3 separate regions of the Homo sapiens genome follow, and all the other regions are reported to be linked to region 2. The links are microRNA targets in miRTarBase. Many come from high-throughput screens and were not tested one by one. Region 2 holds a microRNA gene; each other region holds the end of a gene's coding sequence.
The links. The annotated mature microRNA hsa-let-7d-5p reads AGAGGUAGUAGGUUGCAUAGUU and lies in region 2 at 1,283-1,304, opposite strand. An mRNA with a match to its seed (bases 2 to 7 or 8) in the 3' UTR can be bound and repressed. Matches are read on the target gene's strand: a 7mer-m8 pairs with bases 2 to 8, a 7mer-A1 pairs with bases 2 to 7 and ends in A, and an 8mer does both.

Region 1 (4,057 bases), not on the chromosome of region 2:
AGTGGGTTAGTGTGTGAATGAGTGGGTTAGTGTGTGAGTGGATTAGTGTGTGAATGAGTGGGTGGGTTTGTGAATGAGTGGGTTAGTGTGTGAACGAGTGGGCAAGTTAGTGTGTGAATGAGTGGGCGAGTTAGCGTGTGAATGGGCGAGTTAAGTGTGTGAATGAGTGGGTGACTGCTCTAGCCGAGTTCTTGCTCCTTGGGAAGCACCGGCCAAGGCTAGGAAGCAGCCTGGTTTTTGGGGTCCCAGGGAAGGGGACACCTAGGGGTTTCTGGCTGGGCCCTGGTCCCAGATGTGTAGGCATCAGTGGGTCTCCAAACCTCCCTGCTGGAATTTGTGAGCATCTGGCCCTCAGGACAGTAGGCCCACCCCAGCCGGCCGCTCCCGTGCTCTGAGTCCCGGGTGTGGATGCCTGGGTGCAGCCAGCACTCACCCCTCGGGGGTCCGAGGACGACGCTGCTCTCACGGTCACTCTCCTGTGACCCGAGAGCCAGAGCAGGACCCGCCACCCTCCTGTGCCGTGTCCCTTCCTGTCCACCATGTGTCAGGCCCACTGGACACGGTGCCCGGCAGCTTCACACACACAATTCGCCCTTCGTCGTGCACGAGGCAGTGTTCCAGCATGTTCAGTCACATAAGCTTCACCACAGCCATTTCGGAACATTTTCACCCAAAAAGAAATCCATACCCTGTAAGCAGCCTCCCCCCATCCCCCATCTCCCCCCATTCCCCTTGACCCACCCCCAGCACCCGCCAGTGCACCCCCTGCCTCTGTGCCTGGCCCACTCTGGCATTTCGTGTTAAGTGCAGTCCCACAGCGTGAGACCCTTTGTGTCTAGCTTCCTCCCGAGCGTGAGGCTTCCAAGCTTGGCTCCTGGTTCTAGCTGAGAGGCCTGCAGCAGGCACGGCCCACATGGACTCAGCATGTTCTCGGGCTGCATCCATTTTGGCTGCTGTGAACTTGCGTGCACCCGTTCCTGAGGCTGTGCCACACACCAGGAGTGGACCTGCCGGGGAAGGGGCGGCTCTGTCTCTCACACTTTCAGGAACCACAGGCCCTTCCCGTGCAGCTACAACCCTGCAAGAGGGGTCCGATTCCGCACGTCCTCCCCGCGATTCTCTGGTTTTGGCTGTGACCATCACAGGTGTGAGTTGGCATCTCACGAGTTAGAACACGCTGTCCCCACTCATGGCGGACTCTCTGGTGCCTCCATCCTTATATAAATTAAATTATAAATCGAATGGCCGGGCATGGTGGCTCATACCTGTAATCCCAGCACTTTAGGAGGCTGAGGCAGGCAGATCACTTGAGGTCAGTTCGAGACCAGCCTGGCCAACATGGTGAAACCCCATCTCTACTAAAATACAAAAATTAGCTGGGCGTGGTGGTACACGCCTGTGATCCCAGCTATTCGGGAGGCTGAGGCAGGAAAATAGCTTGAACCTGGGAGGCGGAGGTTGCAGTGAGCTGAGGTGACGCCACTGCATTCCAGCCTAGGCAACAGAGACTGTCTCAGAAATACAGAGATTGGGTCACTTCAACACACAGCACTAGGAAGTTTGGGGTAAGGTCATTTCCAAGCCGATGACATGATTTGGAAGCCCTCGTCCAATTCATATGGTCACTCTTCAGCCACCTGAGTTGGCTGTGGCTGGTCAGCCCTGACGCTCCTGCTAGAAAAGGGGCGGCCAGTACATTTTCTCCAGCTGTCTTTCATGCTGAATGAGACTCAAGAGATTCTTCAACGTACTCAGATTTCATAGGATTTTATTTTTCTACTAACACAGACAGACAGGGAAACCTACAAAAGGAAACGGAGTCAATTGTAAATGGCTGTAGTTACTGGTTACACGGAGTTGACAACACAAAGGATGCCTGGTGCTTGCGTGCAGAGGCTGCAGCCCAGGGCGGGGGCAGAGCTGAGCCCTCAGGAGGTGGTTTCGTGTGCAGAACTGAGCGGCCCTCAGAAGCAGGGCTGTTTTCCAGCCACCAACCAACGTTCAGAGCCAGCACCATGTGGCCGCTGTGCCTCTAGCCTGCTCTCCTCCAGGTGCAGGGGACACAGGACCTGCCGGCCCCATCCAGACATGGAGGAGCGTTTTGCTGCTTAACTCATGCTTAGCCAAGGCAGGCAGAGGCTGTGGGAACTGCTGAGCCCCGCTGTGATGTCTGGGACACGCTCTGGGCAGCAGCCGTCACTCTACAGCAATGCCAGCCCTAGTCTGGCTCCTCAGAAACATCTGGGGGCACAAGTGCAGCCTCTGCCCCGATTTGAACTTTGTTGATGGGGCTGATTCCCTTGGGAGACCATGCAAGCCAGACGTAGCCCAAGGCCTGGCCATCTGGGGCCTCTAGTATATAGAAGCAACCTCTTTATGGACAACCTTGTTACCACGTAACTCCCTGGGGTGTTTAAATAAATAAATATGCCACATAGAAAGGGAGGCCCAAGTCGGTGCCACTGCCCGCAGCCTGCAAATGTGACCACAACCTACAAAGCAGAAACTCACAGCCAGCCGAAGTGCAAAGTGTTGGGCCCTTGAAAGCTATCTCTTCAGTGCCACCGCCGCCTCCATGCAAGGCACAGGCCATGGCAGGGGACGCCCGGGACTCAGCCAGACAGACCTGACACCAGGCGCCACTGCTGCCTGAGGACCTCCCACGTCGGGTCCGTGTCCTCCTTCCCTGGAGCACCGGGGTGGGGATGGCACGTGTGAGCCAGCTCAGAGGCTGAACTGTGTGCCGTGCTCCTGGGGTGGGGTGGGGTGGGGAGGGCAGTCCTGGCTGTCGTGGGCTGTCGGGGGAACTCACTGTTCACTCTGCGCGCGTGTGCCCCTGGGTTTCAGTGCATTTGCCTGCGTGAGGCACTGATCGCACCTGTGGCTGTGGGCTGGGCCCTGTCAGTGCTTATGAAAAGAAGTGGCTGGTTTTCTAAAGGTGGATGGAGACTCGGACAGCTGCAAACACAGCCCGGCATGGCAGAGCCACAGCTGGGGGCCCCTTCCCGGAGCGTAGGCCCTGATGAACTGAACGTGTTCACCACACACCCGACAGATGATCCACCACGTTCTGGAAAAGCCGAGTTCCCTTTCCAGATGGCCCTGGCCCACGCCTCAGCTCATGAAATGTGGACCTGCCGAGCCCAGAGGCTCCCACACGAGGGTGACACGGGCATGGACAGAGTCCTCCAGCTTCAGTGCCTTGAGGTACAGAAACACAAAGACAGTCAAGGAACAGAGTGACTCGGAGGTGACCGGGGCCCTGAGCGGAGCCATGGCCAGGGCTGACGTTTCACCTTCATCATCAGGGACAGCTTCAGCTCCGGGTGCTCTTCCAAGAATGTTCTGGATGGGGTAGAAATGCAACCTAACCACTGGGTAAATCCAGCCAAGGAAAAGAACTTCCAGAAACCAAGGCAAGGGCTCACTGGCTTCTTGTGACCTGCGAGAAGATCTGGCCACGTCCAGGTCACTCCGGTAGCAGCGTCTGCCCTCAGATGCAAGGAAATCGTCCAGCCACGCCCTGATTTGCTGAGCCTGTTAAGGCTGAACAGGAGAGCCCTAGGTGACGGGCCTAGAAACTTCCGTAGGAAGCCCCATGGGCAGCTTGGGCGGCATCACTGGGGGACAGGTGTGTCTGCCGTCTGTTTCCCTGGGCCAAGCCCAGGCCCAGGCTGCCCACGCCGTCCTCCGTGCCTGTCCCAGAGTGCCGTGATGCTGTTGGGCATTAGGAGTAGATGGTGATCACCTCCCGGCCGCCACCCCTGACCAGGAGGACTCTGTTCAGCCCCTCGGTCAGGACTTCAAGAAACTCCATGTCTGTGGTCAACAGAGTTAAGGCCACAGCTGATCTTACCTGAGCGTGTGTAGCTGAAATCGTGATAGGAGTGAGGTTTATCCTCTCCTGGTTAGCTAAGATTTGGTTTGAGAAACCCAGAGCCAAGGTGAAAAGAGAGGTGGGGATTAGAGAGACCCCCCAGGCGGGGAGGAGCAGGGCAGGGGAGAGAGGGGCCAGTGCTCGGGAAAGAGAGGGAGCACCGTGGCCACAGGGAGGACG
Region 2 (4,068 bases):
TAAATGCTCAAACTAGACTAGTGAAATGAGACATAAGAGTTTTTACAAGGTAGTGTCTGCCTGAGCAAACTCAAATAATTACTCAAGTAAAGAAAGGAGGCTGTCCTGGCCAGCACTTTGGGAGGTAAAAGCCAGAGGATAATCAGGAGTTCAAGACCAGTCTGGGCAATATGGTGAAACCGTCTCTACAAAAATAAAATTAGCCAGGCATGGTTGTATGCACCTGTAGTCCCAGTTACTAGGAAGCTTGAGTCCGGGAGGTCAAGGCTGCAGTGAGCTGTGATCATTTCACTACACTCCAGCATGGGTGACGGAATGAGACCATCTCAAAAACAAAACAAAAAGGAGGGTGATCCTGAGCAGTTAATTGTCTGTACAAAGTCACACAAGTGTTTACAAAAATGGAAGAGCTGGAAATTGCTCGTGTTAGCTTTATTAAAACATCTGTAAATGACCATCCAATCACCAAATTATTGCTAATGAAAAATGAAACTAAGAACAAATCATAATAATTACAAATGAAAAATGCATCTACTACTGCAAGGATGGGGATAAGGGTTAAGGATGACTTAAAAAGCACTAGTTTTGAAGTATGCAGTGTTTTTATTGAAAAGATGTATAACTTTTAACAAAATATGTAACACTATTACCCAGTCAAGACAACCACTTTCATTTTATTGACCTTCCAGTTCTTGTACATATTAAACAGACAAATCACTGTTACATACCATAATGAGCAGCAGCTCAATTACCCATTCCCAAACCATGCAATTCCACCCCAGCCGCCCCAAATTTTAAATCCAGAAGACAAACCTAGAAAAGCAGCAAGATAAATATTTACAAACATTGTAGAAAAACAGCAGTATTTCAAGTTTTGTTAAATTCTTTCCTTCAGACATAATGTAGACATAGAGGAGGAACAGCTGAGAGTCTCTGCATCACAGAAAGAGAAACCTGAGCAAAAACAAAACCATGCTTTCTAAACTTTCCAGTGACACCAAAAGGGAGACACTAGCAACTAAGTGTACTTCAGAAGTCTCAAATTCTCATTAGTTGACTTTCAGTTATCAATGTCAGCACCATGCTGCAGTTTATAATCACTAACGCAAACACTGCTCTCTTTGATATTCTTGCAATGTTTTCATTTGAAAAAACCTACAGAAAGAACTCTGCTTACACCAAAGCAAAGTAGCAAGGAAACAGGTTATCGGTGAATAATAAGGCCCTAAGAAAGGCAGCAGGTCGTATAGTTACCTCCTTGTGGGCAAAATCCCTGCCCTAAAACTATGCAACCTACTACCTCTTCCTAGGAACCCATTTTTTTTTTCTTGCTGGTCTTCTACTTGGCAGATGCACTTCAAATTAACCTGTTAAATTAGGTCATGTTCTTTGAGTTTTGTTTCTAATTCAAACTAATCAGAATTCTTTAACTAATGCTTTTGAAAAGTTATCTGGCCATATGACCTTGGTAAAAAGCCACAAATACATTTGCTTAAAATCCAACCTCAAGTCACAAACGAACAAGAAAGTAATGACATCAGAGGATGTAAGCCAGTAGTCTAATACTCAGCCCACCACGTATTACTGGAGTCGCTGACTTTTAACATTTAATTATCAATTTTTTTTTTGGACAGTCTCGCTCTGTCACCCAGGCTGGAGTACAGTGGTGTGATCTCGGCTCACTGCAACCTCTGCCTCCTGGGTTTAAGTGATTCTCCTGCCTCAGCCCCCAGAGTAGCTGGGATTACAGGCGCCCACCACCACGCCCAGCTACTTTTTTGTATTTTTAGTAGAAACAGGTTTTCACCATTTAGGCAGGCTGGTCTCAAACTCCTGACTCAGGTGATCCGCCCACCTTGGCCTCCCCAAAGTGCTGGGATTACCGGCATGAGCCACCACACCCGGCCTAATTTTTGTATCTTTATTAGAGACTGTGTTTCACCAGGCTGGTCAGGATGGTCTTTAACTCCTGACCTCAGGTGCTCCACCCGCCTCAGCCTCCCGAAGTGCTGGGATTAGAGGTGTGAGCCATGGTGCCCAACCCAGTTACCAACATTTAAATATCAAATTTCATAAAATCTCCAGTCTCTCCTGTTAACTGGAAAAGTAGGTGACAATGTATATAAACCCTGCTTGCTACCTATCAACCAGAGCAAATTAATTTACTATATTTGCCAGTTACAACTAGCCCCTCCTGGGCCTCTGATGGTATTTCAGTTTTTGACCCCTGAATTAAAGCAAACAGAAACAAATTCTGATCATGAATTTTATCATCATTAAAAACAAGCTTTCAGAGATAGTCATTCTCTCCATAAAGGCATTTTTAAAGTTTTATTTCGATTTACTTACTCTGCTTAGCTAATAACAATGTCCTTATGTAATTAATAAAATATATAAATTAATTTTTCTCCAGGGCTTAATTATTAGATAAGGATACGTTTCCAACTGAAGGTGGCAACGTTATGCTGGAAGAACATGTCAGGAAGACCACAAAATTTCATGACTGTACTTGCTACACTTTCAGCAGAAGAGTTATACATATTTTCAATTCAACAAAGATTAAGCCAAAAAGAATTCTTAGAACATTCCCACTCTTCTTTGGCACATCAAAAGGCAACAAATGTCATTTTCTCCCATGTTTTTATGTGCAGTTTAGAACAAAGACCAATTATCTATGCAGCTGTCCACAGTGGATAAAACAAAAAGCATACATTTGGTCCAGAGTTAAGTCACCTGGGTTGGGCCCATCCAAGGAAGTTTGATGTTTCTACTCTCATGAAAAGTACCAATGGCACTGCACAGTGATTATCTTAGATATTAAGGATAAACACAAATTTCTCCTTAAATTTCCATTTATTGGAAATGATTGGAGGGAGGGAACTTCTCCCTCACCTCCACACTGCCTCTTTTCCAACTCTTCTTCCAACACAAAATAGTTTAAACAGCAAGCACTTAGAGAGCTTTTAGCCTTGCTTGTTGATTACAAGGCCCAAGTTAGTGTATGGTTTGCCCATCGGAGGAAAGCTAAAACATGGGCCTTCATGGGTATTAAAATTGAAGAAACCTTTTCCAGCATTTTTTCTATTTTCTTTAAAGTAACAACCTATGGACTTCCCCATCTGACATTTTCGAGTGATCCCACTGTGTGAATGAAGGACTACTTCAGGGTTTGAGGGCAAAGCTGAAATCTTAGCAACTTACCAGTGAGCAAAGGTAGAACCCAGAGCCCATCTCTCCTTTTCCAGGCTGCTGAGTAAAGTCTGGCTCAATCAACCTATCAATGAAGCAGTGCTTACAACATTCTCCAAGACCACCCAAAACCCAAACTGGAAATGAATCATGACTAATCTGACTCATTTTGGCTCACACAGTGCCCTTCCAATTTGTATTTACCTTTACCACCCAGGACCTGACCTTGGACATGTGTACCAGGATGTAAGGCAATAAACCTATTCACAATTCCAAAAGGGCCTGGTCCTCTATGAAGATTTCCTGAAGGCTACTTACTTTCTCTACTCATTAAAATTTTTGCTTAACTTCAAATTTCTGAAATATACCATATGTGAAAAATTTAAATGTTAATCTGTGCCTACTGTACTACTTGAACAGAGAAAATTAACTGATAAACTGTAAATACAAAATGTCAAAATTAATTCTTCTGAGTTTTAATATCATCTAAATAAAAAGAAAATAATGCAGCAAGTCTACTCCTCAGGGAAGGCAATAGATTGTATAGTTATCTCCTGAACAGGGTAAAATCACTACCCCACAACTATACAATCTACTACCTCACTCTGATAGAGCAATGTTTTCTTCTGGAATGGAAAGTACAATCTCTTTCGAAAGAAAATTTCAACATAAAATTATCAGCATAAATCAAAATAAAAAAATACATTTATTCTGACACAGAGAAATAAGACAAGAAGCAAAAGGTTTCCCCACCCCCATCCAGTGTACTTGCTACAGACTTTATCTCTAAATTAATTTATTTCCAGGCCATAAACAAATGCTGCACTACATCTCTTTAAGACAAGTTAATCTTAAATATTGTACAATTAGTTAACTGAC
Region 3 (4,057 bases), not on the chromosome of region 2:
ACATTTTGGGAGTCTGTGACCACTCCCATCTGCCACTAAAGCTACGAGTTGGTGTTGGCATGAATCTGCTTTGTTTATTCCCAGCAGGCTCTGGCTCGTGTCACATAAGGCACCAACATCCTTTTCAAGGTAGTAACCATCTAGAATCAACTCAATTGTAACCTGAATTCATAAGCTTAAGTCACCAAAAGACATCACTGGGTCATAATTATATAGGTTCCCCTAAAAAAATAAAAAAAAAATCAATTTCTGCTATGTAGAAAAAGAAACAAAAGGTTTAGGTGCCTTTGCCTTGTGCAATGGATATTTCATATGTTTATTAATTGGTTTCAGTTAATATGTAATATGAAGGCATGATAAATGTGTCAAACTGTTCTCTTGTTTCAGATACAATTCTTGGCATTTCAATATAGGTTATTATCTCATATGTCAGACTTGAGTCCAGAGAATACTAGAAGGACATTTAATTTCCTTTCCTCCTCCTTCCTTTCACTACTCAATTCAAAGAAAAGTTATGAGTACACAGCTAGGAACCATTTTTACGTAGGCATCCATCTGAGCCCATCTTGTTTTTTTTTTCTAAAACAACAAAAAGACTAAGGACAATTACATAATGCATTCCCAAGCCTTTTATGGATATCAGGGCCTGGGGGGACTATCTGGCCTATTTGGGTTCTTTCATTCACCAAAATTCTATTATACATGCCAAGGGTTAAAGGGAACACCATCAGTCAAGAGACGGCTGGGCCCTAGAATGGAATCTATTAGCATAAAATGGAACAGTGGGACCCAAAGAGCTATCAGCAAAATTCCCTTTGTAACAGACGTAAAAATCATGAATTTGAGGGGAAAAATAAACTAGTTTTGGTGGGATGCAGTGGCTAACAGGAATTACTTATTAGAAGGTAATGAAGTTGCTAAATTTTCCTTGTTTTTGATCCCTGTGTTCTGTTGGTCTCTTGAAGCAATCTGAGTGGGAAAGGAAAGTGAAAGAAATGTTTTATGCCAGCTGCCTCTTGTATTCCCATTAATGGGAGTCTCTACATTAATGCTCTACATAATTTGGTCAGACTGATGAGAGGCAATAGATTTCCAATGCTGATGAGATCCAGAGCCCTGGAGCCCATTTATGGCTTGACATTCACCCAGCAAGACGCTGACGTGGCAGCAAACACGGCTCCAATGTCCAGCTTACCTCATAGTTATCCCTTCAATCCTTCTTGATGAGATTGGTCTGAGAGATGAGACTGTACTGAAATCACAAGAGCTATAACTGCCAGAGAAAAATTAAATGGGGTCTTCAAGTAGTGACTGAGCCAGCAAACTAAGTGGCCAAGAGGGAGACAAGAGCAGCTCCTAAAGAAGGTTGAAGTCAAGCAATCTCCGGAACACAGAGGATCTGAAGCATCTGGGCAGAGCCACAGGCAGGCAGGGCAAGGACACACAGCACACCAGAGCAGCACCGTCCTTCACTGTGTGAGAGCAACTCTCAGGCTGCAGAACCAATTGCCATCTCCACTGCCTACAGCTCAGGTCTCCAACTACCAGATAGGGAGTAAAAAACAGTTTGATTTTATTCACCTCAAGTCTAAACACGGTGGAAAAAAAACTGGTCTAGAGATGGAAACTATATTTCATGGGGGTTTATTAAACAGAGAAAGAGGAGAATCTTTCACAATTTCACAGTGCTTTCTCATTGAAATAAAGACATGATCAGGAAAAGTCACCCTTATAGGCAAGCTATCACCTCCCTAAGTAGGGGAGGCACCAAAATCTCCAGAGAATCCTGAGACCACTTGCACGAGTTGAATTATTTTTTAAAATAAACTTATGCTTAAATATGCTAGGTCTCAATTTCTATAAATAAGGTAAAAAATAGTATATTTCAGAAGTTTTAATAGTTCTTTGTAGAGAGAGAACATTTTACCATGTACATAATTCACAAGGGTATAAAGGTTTCCCAATGTAAAGTTCCTTTTACCCTTCAACTGTAACCCATAGCATCTGCCCAAATACTGCTCATTTTTCACTTTCTACTATATGTCTCTTTCCTGCCAACTGAGGTAGTTGTCACTTAGGACAGTTTAAGGCTCTGGAAAACACTGGTGGAAATAATCAACTGCCCACCTGGAGGGCAGTCTCAGAGCTGACCCTTTGGAAGTCTGCAATGGAGCTAGGCCTTTCAAAATTACCACGCTAAATGGCTGGTCTAAAGGAGTCATTACGGCTTTTTAAAAAATCATCTGCCTTTTTCCATCATCTTGGTGAGCCAGTAAGTCTGGTGCTGTGCGCTTGCCATGACCATCTATCTTCCTGGCTAAGGTAATTACAGACTTTTCCAGGGTATAAGGGTGAAGACCACAAAGAAAAAGAACCAAGTAAATGACAGACACTTGAGAATTTGCTTCCTCACAGATGACATTGCTGGTTTATAAGGGGTACTTTGCAATGGCAAAAGAATCTGAAACTAATGCTACTGCAATAACAGGCAGCATACATCTCAGGTCAGAAACGCAATCATAAATAAGTGTAAGTTCATGGAAACTTGACAGCTGAATGAGCACCCAGAGGCATGAAGATAACCTGGAGCCTATTTCCTGGCAATGCAAATTGTGGCTGCTGCATAACTACAAATTGTGTATCAAGAAACTACATAGTTTCAAGGCTTAAAAATTACCCAGATTTGGGGGAGTATGGGTGGTGAGAAAAGGCTGAAAGGAATGGACAGAGCATGTAGACAAAGGAAGGGAAAGGAAAAGGAGACAGTTTCCTGATTTCATAGCAACTCAAAGATAACATGACCCAATGACAGGAAAATGGAGAACGTATAAAAAGCATCCAAATCCCCTAAACAAGATGACTTCTCCTAGCTAGCAGGAATAATGCTACTCTGAACATACATAGTTCACAGGTAAGGGAACTGACCCTTCCTGAAAGGGCAAAGGCAGGGTAAGGAAGAATGGGAAGAGAAGAATACAAATGTTTTTTAAGATGGAATTGAAAGTTGAATATAATAAAAAGCCCAGTACATCTCACCTGCAGAAGAGCCTACAGGCATGTTCCTAAAGGCAAATAGGACTTTCTATCATATGTATGAGAACTAAATCAAAGCTTAAAACAACAGCTCCTGGGGCTTTAATGGATAATCCATATTAATAAATATGTAGGGGCCTAGGGGGTGTGTCACTCTGGAGCACTTGCTGGTTCTGGAACATGAGTTTGTTATGTTTTTTAAAAGACATTCATTTAAAAAACAAAACAATAAAAATCTATTTTCCTCCCAAAACAGTTAAATCAATAATTATTCTAAAGTCACTGAAATAAAAGCTGGAGTGAAGGAGGCTCAGATTTGTGGATTTCTCTCTGGAAGTTGCAGCCTATAGTCTAAAAGCATTCCTGCACTTAACAACAGTTCTTACTTTGGAGAGCCAGCCAGTGACAGAAATGCCATGATTGAATCAACTTTCAAGAAGGAGCTAGAATGCCATGCTAGCTGTGGCCATCCAATTTCTCTGGAAACATAAAAGTGGGCTGTTAGCTTAACCAATGGGAAGTGAACTACCCAGCATTCACTACTTTATCCACTCTCCTTCCTCAGGGATCCCATAGAGACCTCCCATTTCCAAAGGGAGGCCTTTTTAGGCCTCTTATTTCAGTAGGAGAATTTCTACCCTATCTATCTCACTCTGTTTCAAAGGGTTGAAAGCAATTGCACAACACATGCAACATGGACCAAGGCACCAAGCCAGTCCACGTAAAGATAACTGACCACTACCTAGGTTAGAAAGTTGTTCTGTGTGATAGCAGGACACCGAGAATATGAGTCCTCCTCCTCAGAGGATGCTTCCTCATAGATTTCATCCTGGGCAATAATGCTCCCTAATCCATACTCCTGCTCATGGACAGAAACTTCATTTGGCGTGAGGTGGGAAGAGCCTTCCACAAAGTCAGCAAATCTGGAAAAGAGAAGATAATACTCGTTAGAAATATCCTTCTGTCCTTTCTGGTCTTCTTTCAAAATAAGAACAAATTAAAGCCCTCGATATGCTCGCAACTC

Region 1: the mRNA of SLC12A7 is a reported target of hsa-let-7d-5p. Seed matches in the 3' UTR shown: 7mer-A1 at 3,204-3,210.
Region 3: the mRNA of NEMP1 is a reported target of hsa-let-7d-5p. Seed matches in the 3' UTR shown: 8mer at 2,060-2,067.

Annotation. Positions count from the first base shown.
Region 1 is chr5:1,048,633-1,052,689 of GRCh38, forward strand. SLC12A7 (solute carrier family 12 member 7) reads right to left here. Exons shown (of 24, transcript NM_006598.3): 24 at 1,752-3,819. The coding sequence ends at 3,728. Among named protein-coding and RNA genes, the nearest start is that of MIR4635, 12 kb to the right of the region's middle.
Region 2 is chr9:94,176,077-94,180,144 of GRCh38, reverse strand. MIRLET7D (microRNA let-7d) reads right to left here and starts at 1,311; the gene lies at 1,225-1,311. MIRLET7A1HG (miRlet-7a-1/let-7f-1/let-7d cluster host gene) reads right to left here. Exons shown (of 5, transcript NR_170278.1): 3 at 224-325. MIRLET7F1 (microRNA let-7f-1) reads right to left here and starts at 3,798; the gene lies at 3,712-3,798. LINC02603 (long intergenic non-protein coding RNA 2603) reads left to right here. Exons shown (of 3, transcript NR_160773.1): 3 at 2,414-3,576. RefSeq lists an enhancer at 851-900.
Region 3 is chr12:57,056,104-57,060,160 of GRCh38, forward strand. NEMP1 (nuclear envelope integral membrane protein 1) reads right to left here. Exons shown (of 9, transcript NM_001130963.2): 9 at 1-3,956. The coding sequence ends at 3,776. Among named protein-coding and RNA genes, the nearest start is that of MYO1A, 8.0 kb to the left of the region's middle.